Regions from separate parts of the Homo sapiens genome. Here region 1 is reported to be linked to region 2. The links are microRNA targets in miRTarBase. Many come from high-throughput screens and were not tested one by one. Region 2 holds a microRNA gene; the other region holds the end of a gene's coding sequence.

What was found. Region 2 holds the annotated microRNA hsa-miR-3615 (UCUCUCGGCUCCUCGCGGCUC, at 1,864-1,884, shown strand). A microRNA usually pairs through its seed, bases 2 to 8, with sites in the 3' UTR of a target mRNA and lowers its output. Matches are read on the target gene's strand: a 7mer-m8 pairs with bases 2 to 8, a 7mer-A1 pairs with bases 2 to 7 and ends in A, and an 8mer does both.
Region 1: miRTarBase lists CCNDBP1 as a target of hsa-miR-3615. The part of its 3' UTR that is shown has no 7-base or 8-base seed match.

Annotation. Positions count from the first base shown.
Region 1 is chr15:43,193,950-43,198,949 of GRCh38, reverse strand. It overlaps CCNDBP1 (cyclin D1 binding protein 1), which reads right to left. Exons shown (of 11, transcript NM_012142.5): 10 at 4,489-4,535; 11 at 1,773-4,223. The coding sequence ends at 4,109. It overlaps EPB42 (erythrocyte membrane protein band 4.2), which reads left to right. Exons shown (of 13, transcript NM_001114134.2): 13 at 1,486-1,723. The coding sequence ends at 1,648. Among named protein-coding and RNA genes, the nearest start is that of CCNDBP1, 11 kb to the right of the region's middle.
Region 2 is chr17:74,746,800-74,752,316 of GRCh38, forward strand. MIR3615 (microRNA 3615) reads left to right here and starts at 1,814; the gene lies at 1,814-1,900. It overlaps RAB37 (RAB37, member RAS oncogene family), which reads left to right. Exons shown (of 9, transcript NM_001006638.3): 9 at 1-536. NHERF1 (NHERF family PDZ scaffold protein 1) reads left to right here and starts at 1,829. Exons shown (of 6, transcript NM_004252.5): 1 at 1,829-2,488. The coding sequence starts at 2,048. It overlaps SLC9A3R1-AS1 (SLC9A3R1 antisense RNA 1), which reads right to left and starts at 3,068. Exons shown (of 3, transcript NR_187307.1): 1 at 2,264-3,068; 2 at 1,774-2,128; 3 at 1-744. RefSeq lists enhancers at 383-978, 2,267-2,892, 4,384-4,925 and a silencer at 1,373-2,062.

The DNA of each region.
Region 1 (5,000 bases), not on the chromosome of region 2:
CATAGGCTCAACACCATTTGGAAGCTGCCAAGGCTTGCGGCTTCCACCCTCTGAAGCCACAGCCCAAGCGGTATGTTGGCCCCTTTCAGCCATGGCTGGAGTGGCTGGGACACAGGGCACCAAGTCCTTAGGCTGCATACAACACAGGAACCCTGGGCCTGGCCCACTAAACCACTTTTTCCTCCTGAGCCTCCGGGCCTGTGATGGGAGGGGCTGCCATGAAGTTCTCTGACATGGCCTGGAGACATTTCCCCCTTGATCTTCAGGTTTAACATTAGGCTCCTTGTTACTTATGCAAATTTCTGCAGCCAGCTTGAATTTTTCCCTAGAAAATGGGTTTTTCTTTTCTATTGCATAGTCAGGCTGCAAATTTTCCAAACTTTTACGCTCTGCTTCCTTTATAAAACTGAATGCCTTTGACAGCACCCAAGTCACCTCTTGAATGCTTTGCTACTTAGAAATTTCTTCCACCAGATACCCTAAATCATCTTTCTCAAGTTCAAAGTTCCACAAATCTCTAGGGCAGGGTCAAAATGCCACCAGTCTCTTTGCTAAAACATAAGAGTCACCTTTGCTCCAGTTCCTAACAAGTTCCTCATCTCTATCTGAGACCACCTCAGCCTGGATTTTATTGTCCATATTGCTATCAGCATTTTCGGCAAAGCTATGCGACAAGTCTCTAGGAAGTTCCAAGCTTTCCCACATTTTCATCTTCTTCTGAGCACTTCAAGCTGCTCCAATCTCTGCCTGTTACCCAGTTCCAAAGTCACTTCCACATTTTCGGGTATCTTTTCAGCCATGCCCCACTCTACTCATACCAATTTACTGTATTGTTTGTTTTCACGCTGCTGATAAAGACATACCTGAGACTGGGAAGAAAAAGAGGTTTAATTGGACTTACAGTTCCACATGGCTGGGGAGGCCTCAGAATCATGGCAGGAGGCAAAGGCACTTCTAACAGGGTGGTGGCAAGAGAAAATGAGGAAGAAGCAAAAGCAGAAACCTCTGATAAGCCCATCAGGTCTCCTGAGACTTATTCACTATCACGAGAATAGCACAGGAAAGACCAGCCCCCATGATTCAATTACCTCCCCCTGGGTCCCTTCCACAACTCATGGGAATTCTGGGAGATAGAATTCAAGTTGAGATTTGGGTGGGGACACAGCCAAACCATATCACTCTTCCAAACAAACTCCAATACAATTACCAGGAATTGAACCAGAAGGAAGTCACAGATGACAAAAGGAACAACAGATGTAGCTTGGAAGCCCTTAGGATGTACCTCTTCTCAACCATGCAGTTGCTCAGCATTGGGTGGCTCCTGTCTTCTATTCCTTTATAAACACTTCCATTTTAATAGCAAGGTACTTAGATGTTTATTTCTGCATGGTCCACCTCTTCAAGCAAGGAAGGATCAAAGTCACTGGGACCAGCAGAGCAATGAACCTGGGACAGAACTAGCACCTGCCTTTTCCTTTATTTCAGATTCCGTTCAGTGTGGCCTGAAAACACCATGTGTGCCAAGTTCCAGTTCACGCCAACACATGTGGGGCTCCAGAGACTCACTGTGGAAGTGGACTGCAACATGTTCCAGAACCTAACCAACTATAAAAGCGTCACCGTGGTAGCCCCTGAACTATCAGCTTAAACTTCCAGCTCTATCACCACTCTCCTGCCAACCCTTGTTCTACAATCTAAACCAAACATGTGCTAGGAAGAGAAACTTTGCGTCTCAGTGTTTGTGTTGCTATAAAGGAATAACTGAGGCTGGGTAGTTTAAAAGAAAAGAGCTTTATTTGGCTCACGGCTCTGCAGGCTGTACAAGAAACAGTGAGGGCTTCAGGCTGCTTCCACTTATGCAGGAAGATGAAGGGAGGCAACGTGAGCAGAGATCACAGGGCAAGAATGGGTTGAGGGGTAGGGGTAAGTGCCAGGTGCCAGCCTCGTTTTAACAGCCAGCTCTGGGGTGGGGGAGGGACATATAGAGCGAGAACTTACTCATTACCCCACCAATGGAACGAAGCCATTCATGAGGGATCCAAACACCTCCCATTAGGCCCCACCTCCAACACTGGGAATCCAATTTCAGCATGAGGTTTGCAGGGTTGAATATCCAAACTACATCACTTTATCAGATAAATGAGTAGTCATTCAGGTTGAAAAGGTGCTCAGATACCTTTAAGGAGTACATTCAGATTGTTCAGGTTCAGGTTTTTTGCAACCATTTTACTGCTCATTAATACATTCATTAACTTACAGATAAGGGAAAGGACCTAACACTTAAATCATTCTAATATTTCTGATGAAGTGGGATATTATCCCAAAATGGAATTTTTAGGTAATCTTAAAATTACATTGATCAAGCTGGGCTCGGTGGCTCACATCTGTAATCCCAGCACTTTGGGAGGCTGACGTGGGCAGATCACCTGAGGTCAGGAGTTTGAGACCAGCCTGGCCAACATGGTGAAACCCCATCTCTACTAAAAATACAAAAATTAGCTGGACATGGTGGTGTGCATCTGTAGTCCCAGCTACTTGAGAGGCTGAAGCCAGAGAATTGCTTGAGAACCTGGGAGGCGGAGGTTGCAGTGAGCCGAGAGTGTGCCACTGCACTCCAGCTTGGGGGACAGAGCAAGACTCCATCTCAAAAAAAAAAAAAAAAAAAAAAAAATTACATTGATCAGTGCTTTCCCTGATCATTATCCTTAAAGATCCAAACATGACTGAACGAAGTTATACAATACAGGACCTGAGAGAATAATTCAGCTAGAGGTAAGTCTTTATATTAGAGTTCTATATTCATTAAGTATCCCACAATTAAAGTCTGATGTTAATAACATGAATTTGGTCCAGTAGAGAAATATAAAAGTATATAAAAAATAGGCTCTATATGAAAGGATAAAAGAACTAGACTGTTGTACAATGTTATTATTTTGTTTATGTTATTTTGTTGCCTTGACACTCTGTCAGTTTGATTTTAGTTCCTTCCCTTCATGACACTTGTTAACAATACAAAATGGCACTTCAAAACAGTAAGCTAAAACTCATTTGGCTTAAGGAATTTCAACCCCAACCCCAAGTATACATTAGTCACTCAAAGAATGACTGCTGTTGCTGATTATACCTAAAGACAGCAGAAAGGCATATGTTATGAATTACACCTACAAAAGGAAGATGATGGGCATGAGAGGTGGCGGAGACCTGTAGGACATGCATAATGCCCTATTCAGCTCACCAGAATATACATCATTATAGATTTACACTGCTTTCCAATATGCAGTCTTCTAGACTGATGCAAAAGTATAATTAAGTGGTGATGGTTTTGCAAAAGGATGAACTGAAAAGGCCCTTAAAATTACATAAAATCTCTTACACACTAAAAAATTTTTGATTTATAAAAATTTGGTATTTACATTTGGGGACACACGTAACCAAGGACAACACAAGTATGTATAAGGAAAATAAATCTGTTCAATAAGGTGGGCAAACCTAACAAATGAGCTCAATGCCAATATATTTTAGAGACATGGAGTAATCTGTGATAATATTCAGAAGGACTTGCTGATAATAATATATAACATGGTGAAATACTAAGATGAATTTTGGAGTCATCTTTTATAAATAAAGTGTTTTGTTCTAAATATACTTCTGATTAGAATCAGATTTTTAAACCTACAAACCCAAATGAAAGCAATGTTCTAGTCTCAATCCACTGTATTTCTGGTAAAAAGAAACTTTGGAAGGGCACTCATTTAATCACTGGCAAGTTAGCATTTTATTGAGACCATCAACATCTTTACAATGAAAACAACATACTTTACTGCAAAAAGAGAATAAGGCAGCTTTCCTAGGAATCTCTGAGAAATGACTCAGGAATGAGAAATCATGCAATTATTTTTCATATATAGCACAGAAAAATATACGCATATGGTTTATAAATAGGTGTCAATCTGGCCTAACCAACAATCTTTGGTAATAGTGTCTCTTGCTAAATATAGATAGGCACTCCCTTTCAATCCAGCAAGCATTCTAGCTCCATTTTAAAAGCAGGTATCAGAGCCTGACCATGACGATGAGAGGGGAAGAGAGTACAAATGAGCCTGAAAAGTCATAATTCAAGTTCACTCTGAGTGAGCTCCTTGATTCTATTCATGCAATGATCAATGGCATTAATAAGTAAAGGGATCCAACTATCTTCTGGCTGAGGGGTCACATGACTTGCTCTGTGAATAGAATAGGAAAGAAGTAAGTTAAACTTATTAGGATGTCAAGGGAAAACCTATCCTCAGGAGGGAGCACAGGGAAAACTAAAATTTTTTTAAAGGGAAGCTTCTTTGCAGAATCTCAGCTGCCCCACAACTGAAGCTGAAAGAAAATCCCACACCCACCCTTTCCCACTCCTTGAAATGGGAGCTAGGGAGTTGAGAACGTCTGGACAGCAGTTCCGTTTTACTCACAAAAAGCTATCTGAGAAGTCTTCATACTTACTTTGTAATTTCAAGTGCCTTCTTTAAAACAGATACAAGTTTCGCAGACTAGAAAAGAAACACAGAAGTTATTCACCCTGAGCCCTACCATAAAAAGGTGAGTTCAAATATTTTTAAAGACCCAAGTAATAAAAAAATTATTTAGAAAAAGGACCTGAAGGAAGTATGCAAAATTTAAAATGCTGATTAGGTTAGGGTGGCAGGATTACGGGTTCTTTTCTATTTAGCAAGATCTTATTAATACTATTGCTATAACATTTTAATAAGATTTTTTAGATCTAAAATATTTTCAATTTAAAAAAGGACAGAAAAAGGAAAATGTAACCTGAATTGGTCCCAAATGCTGATAGCTCAAAATATAAAGCAGAAATGACTAAGGTTCCTTTAAAAAAAAAAAAAAAAAAAAAAAAAAAAAAGCGCATTAAGAATTTTAAGAACACCAATATAAGGATAAGATGGAGACGTTTAATATAAAATATCAATACATATAAGATGCATATGCAGTACACATTT
Region 2 (5,517 bases):
TACCAGGGCCTAAACTGCTTTACCTCCCCTCCTACTGAGTCAGGTTAGGTGGTGGGAGGTCACCCATTTCCGAGTTAAACCAATGCAATATGAGTAAAACAAAGTCATGTGGGTATGTCTGGGGTAGAGAGAGGGGTAGCAAGTTCATGTGTCCTCCTTGGTCACATATCTCCCAAAGCTCCGATCCCTGCCATGGGAAGTGGACAGGAAACATGAGGTCATGACCTGCAGGCATCTTTACTGCAGCTCTGCCGGCCTGGAGGGGGAGAGGGGGAGGAAGAAGTATGCGCTGCACATTTCTGAGGCTACTGCATTTGCTTTCAAGGCAGAAATCTTGCTCTGAGCAGTCAGCGGCTCCAGTTTGGGCCCGATAAGGAAGTTCTCCGTGGCCTCCCTCAGGCAGAGCAGGGAGGAGGCTGACATTGCCAGTCTCTTCTGGGGCCCAAGGCAGGTTGCAGGAGATCCAATCCCATAGACAGCTCTGGGCCTCTTGCATTTGAGTTTTTCAGAATTAAACTGCAGTATTTTGGAAAGCACATCCTGTCCACTGTTTCTTTGAAGTGAGTGGGGGGGGGGGGTCTTGTTGAAGGAATTGTCATTCACTGCCAAAATCATTCCATCCTCCTTCCTCAGTGTCTGTCCTCAGATGGTCAGCTCCCCGCTCAACAGACTGTCTCCCGCCTCTGTGACCAGCCTCTCTTTGGCAAGAGGGAGCTAGAAGGCTTTACAGTCCTAATCATTTTTCTGTTGGAAAAAAAAAAAAAAAACCAAGGCTCCTTTCCCTGTGGCGTGTACCCAGAGGTTGATTACCTGAGTCTGTCCTGCCTCTCCCCACCCCACCTCCCTAGCCAAACGCTGCTGCCAAAGCCCACGCTATTGCCCTAGATGGCCTGTCTTCAGCGGGCTGCCCCTCGAGGTCCCAGGCTCTCCGCGGAGCCCTCACCTTCCCAGCAGGGATCAGAACCTGCACTCCTCTATGCGAGTCCTGGGACAGCACAAAGTGGATTAGGGTTAGGGTTCCCACAAACGGAAAAATGTTATTCAAACAACTCTGTAGGGTCCGAGGAGGCCCTCCGTCTTAATTCTCGAGACTGACCGGCCCTCGCTGCCCCGAGCGGGAGCAGTTGCCCCGGCAACAGCCGCTCCCTCTCAACTGGAGCTGCACCCAGGCTTTGGCTAAAGGCTGTTAAAACGTTGGCCAGGTGCGGTGGCTCACGTCTGTAATCCCAGGGCGGATCACCTGAGGTCAGGAGTTTGAAACCATCCTGGCCAACATGGCGAAATTTCGTCTCTACTAAAAATACAAAAATTAGCGGGGCGTGGTGGTGCGCGCCTGTAACCCCAGCTGCTCGGGAGGCTGAGGCAGGGGAATCGCTTGAACCCGGGAGGCGGAGGTTGCAGTGATCCGAGATCGCGCCACGGCAGTCCAGCCTGGGCGACAGAGCGAGACTCCGTCTCAAAAAAAAAAAAAAAAGTTAGGGTCCTTTACCCGAGGGCCGGCTTTCCTCACTCCCCGCCACAGGTAGGGGAAACCAGGCCGGAGCCGGCGGGCCCACCCGCCCAGAACCGGGAATTCGGCGAGCCCCGCCCCTGCCACCCCAGCGCCGGCCGCTCGGTAACAAACACTTCCACTTCCTGAGCGCTAGTCTTCGCCCGCCGCGGGGCGCCGCGCCGAGCGCAGGCCCCGCCCCGCGCGTTCCCAATGGCCGGCGCCGTTCACCCGGCCGGAGCGCCCAGGCCTGCAGCCCCCTATTGGCCCGCGGAGGTCCCCACCCTCAGCGCGGCCCCGCCCCCGGGGTAAGGAGCCGGGGCGGACTCTGGGACGCTCAGACGCCGCGCGGGGCGGGGATTGGTCTGTGGTCCTCTCTCGGCTCCTCGCGGCTCGCGGCGGCCGACGGTTCCTGGGACACCTGCTTGCTTGGCCCGTCCGGCGGCTCAGGGCTTCTCTGCTGCGCTCCCGGTTCGCTGGACGGGAAGAAGGGCTGGGCCGTCCCGTCCCGTCCCCATCGGAACCCCAAGTCGCGCCGCTGACCCGTCGCAGGGCGAGATGAGCGCGGACGCAGCGGCCGGGGCGCCCCTGCCCCGGCTCTGCTGCCTGGAGAAGGGTCCGAACGGCTACGGCTTCCACCTGCACGGGGAGAAGGGCAAGTTGGGCCAGTACATCCGGCTGGTGGAGCCCGGCTCGCCGGCCGAGAAGGCGGGGCTGCTGGCGGGGGACCGGCTGGTGGAGGTGAACGGCGAAAACGTGGAGAAGGAGACCCACCAGCAGGTGGTGAGCCGCATCCGCGCCGCACTCAACGCCGTGCGCCTGCTGGTGGTCGACCCCGAGACGGACGAGCAGCTGCAGAAGCTCGGCGTCCAGGTCCGAGAGGAGCTGCTGCGCGCCCAGGAAGCGCCGGGGCAGGCCGAGCCGCCGGCCGCCGCCGAGGTGCAGGGGGCTGGCAACGAAAATGAGCCTCGCGAGGCCGACAAGAGCCACCCGGAGCAGGTAAGCGGGGCCCAAGCCGCGCAGGCTGGCATGGAGTGGGAGGAGGATCCGGAGAGACCCAGGTGCCCCGGCCGTCCAGCCCCGCGCCCGCCGTCGTTTTTCTGAAACTCGAGCTGCGAGGGGGAGACCGCTTCCGCCCGCCGACCAGGCGCCCTGACACATCCTAGGCAGGCCTGGGGCTGCGTCCCGCGACCTCCTCTCCTTCCCAGGCTGTGCTGGGAGCTTGAGCGCCTTTGCCGCCTGCACCTCTTGTTCCCTGGCCTTTGGGAGGGCGGCGCAGGGGAACCCAGCCCCCTTCCCTCGGGTCTGTGGGTGTCTGCTCCCGTTCCTCGGAATCCCCCAATCCTGCTCCTTCCCTGGTGCCCTCTCCTCGTTCACCCCAGTCCGCAGATGGGCCGGGGAGAAAGGGCTCTCCGCCCCAGAGGTGCCAGCTTCGCCCGCCACTCCTACTTCAAAAGCTAGAGGAATAGCATTACTCCTCCTGTGTGGAGCCCCGGCGCGAGGAGGCCCTCTCCGCAGCCCGCCGGTGTGTGTCCTGAACTTCAGTCCTGCTGGACTTCATCCTCCCGGAGTCCTGTGTGACTTCTAAGGGAGAGGAAGCCCCACCATCTCAGGGCGGTGTGGGGGTTGCCTGGCAGGGAGGAGGAGCCAAGGCATCTCGGAGTGGTGGTTCTGCCACCTCAGAGGATTTACGATTCTCAGGAATGTGAAGAGTAAGCGCCTAGAACTGTATCTGGGAGGGAAGGGGAAAGACCTTGGAAGAAGAAAAAGATGGCCATGGGGAGGAGAGAGAGCTCCTGGGGCTCACGGCCCTGTGTGCGCCAGCGGAGCTCACGGTGAGCCGGTGGTCTTGCCCTGGCCTTGCCATGGTCACTCTGGTGCCCACACAGCCAGCAGGCCGGTTGCTTTTTGCCCATGTTTGGTGTTTGCCCATGGGATCCCAGTTTGGATCAGCTGCAAGAGGGGCAGCTGGCAAAATAGGAGTTGTGCTGAGCCTCCTGTCCCCAGAGAGTGGAGTGGTGCATTGTGTAGGGCAGGGCGTGAGCCTCCCAGGACCCCTTCAGCTTGCACCACCAGCTCTCCCTGGTGGCAGTGTCTGATGGGAGTGTCCGTGGGGCTACGAGGAGCCTCCTGGACAGAGAAAGGGCACAGTTCGGCATTAAGGTAGAAGGCAAAGCCCTAGAGGATCAACTGGTTTGGTGGAAGTGAGGTCACCAGAAGCCCTGTCCAGCCAGAGCTGGGTGCTGGGAATGCCAGGGCCACCAGGCTCCCACTTCCTGCCCCTGCCAAGCTGGCATTGGCAAGGGGAGGGGGAAGGGATCTGAGCACCCGGAGCAAGGAGGTTGATGCCAGGGAGTTGGGGCCGATGATCTCCAGTCCCAGGCAGAAATCCAGTGTGAACTTTGTGCTGAGTCCATCGATCGATTTGACATTCTTTTTTTTTTTTTTTTTTGGACTTTGGCACCCACACAAATACCCACCCACCCCCACCCCCCACAAGTTGCAGTCTCGTTCAGCTCCTCCCTTTGCCCTTTTGGTTATGCTGCTGGGTGCCAGAGGGCCTGGGAGGCGAACGTGGAGGCCTGGCATAGCACACGTGCGCAAAGGCAGCAGCTTTGAGCTTCCTGGGTGAGCACAGACTCAGATTCCTGCATGTTTTGGAGGGACACCTACATTTGTGTGTACTTTGTTAGGCCAGGAGATGAGAGGAGAGCCACCAGCAAATCCTGGGGACACCATCACCAGCCAAGTCCCAGGACTTCTGAGTTCTGGTTCTCCCATCTGTGAGATGGAGGCATTGGGCGATGTGATGCCTGCCTTCTCTAGAATTATAGAAATGACGTGAAGCACTTGAGCCCCTTACTAAATGCTGAACTGCACTCCTTCATGCCTGGCGTTTGAATCCCAGCTCCTCTAAACTGACTCCTAGTCAACACCATTGAGTCCTTCTAGCAGAAAATCCTCTCCTCTCAATCCTGTGTGTTGAGCATACAGACACCCATGTGGTTATTAGAAAAAATGTTAACAGACATTGTAAGAGTTCGTTTTTCTAAAACACACCCGTTTCCTACATAAAGCATCAAATGGAGGTTTGCCAATTCGTTTTAGTCTGAATTTGTGTGCAAGGTGGGGCTGTTCCCTTGTCTTCATTAGCCCTCCACTTACTAAGTGATGATATCAGTGGAAAAGTGTGGCGCAGAGAGTGGTTGGCTGGGTGGCCTCTGGCTGGGAAGACCAGCTGTGTCCAGAACCACTCAGGGCAGAGGCTGAGGGGTGCCTGTAACACTGGCCATCCCCGCTGGGGAGTCTAGGCCTAAGGAGGTGGAAGTGGCTCTCCAGCTCTGCCCACCGGCTTTGCTTTGTGGATGGCCTTCCCCGCCTGCCCCGTGGGGAGAGAGGAGCAGCAAGACCCGCCCTGCTGTTCCCCTGCTTAAAGCCCTCCTCCCCCCATTCACCACCAGTCACAGGATGAGGCCTAAACCCTTGAGTCTGGGTTCAGAGTGCCGGCCGGGCAGAGCCGAGCCAGCTCAGCTGTACTAGCCAGGCTGTGCGAAGCCAAGTTACCTCACCTCTGTAAGCCTCCATTTCCTCTTGTGTAAGTTGGGGGTTATGGCAGCTACCTCGGAATTGCATGAGGCTGTGTGTAAAGCACGTAGCTCAGTGCCTGGCACTGAGTCCAGGCTCAGCCAGCCTTTGCAGTTGGTATTGGAATGAATACATATTTCATAGTGATCATTGCACACCTATCATGGGGCAGCTAGCGCTGGGTCAGCCTGCCTAGTTGGGCAAATGCCACTGTGGCCAAGCCTGGCACACAGTCAGTGCCTGATCGATGGTCACTGTGGGTTAAGAATGATACGTTGTGGCCAGGTGTGGTGGCTCACACCTGTAATCCCAGCACTTTGGGAGGCCAAAGTGGGAGGATCGCCTGAGCCCAGGAGTTTGAGACCAGCCTAGGCAACATGACAAGACCCTGTCTCTATTAAATTTTTTCTTTTTTTTTTTTAAGAGTTATATGCTGTTCCATG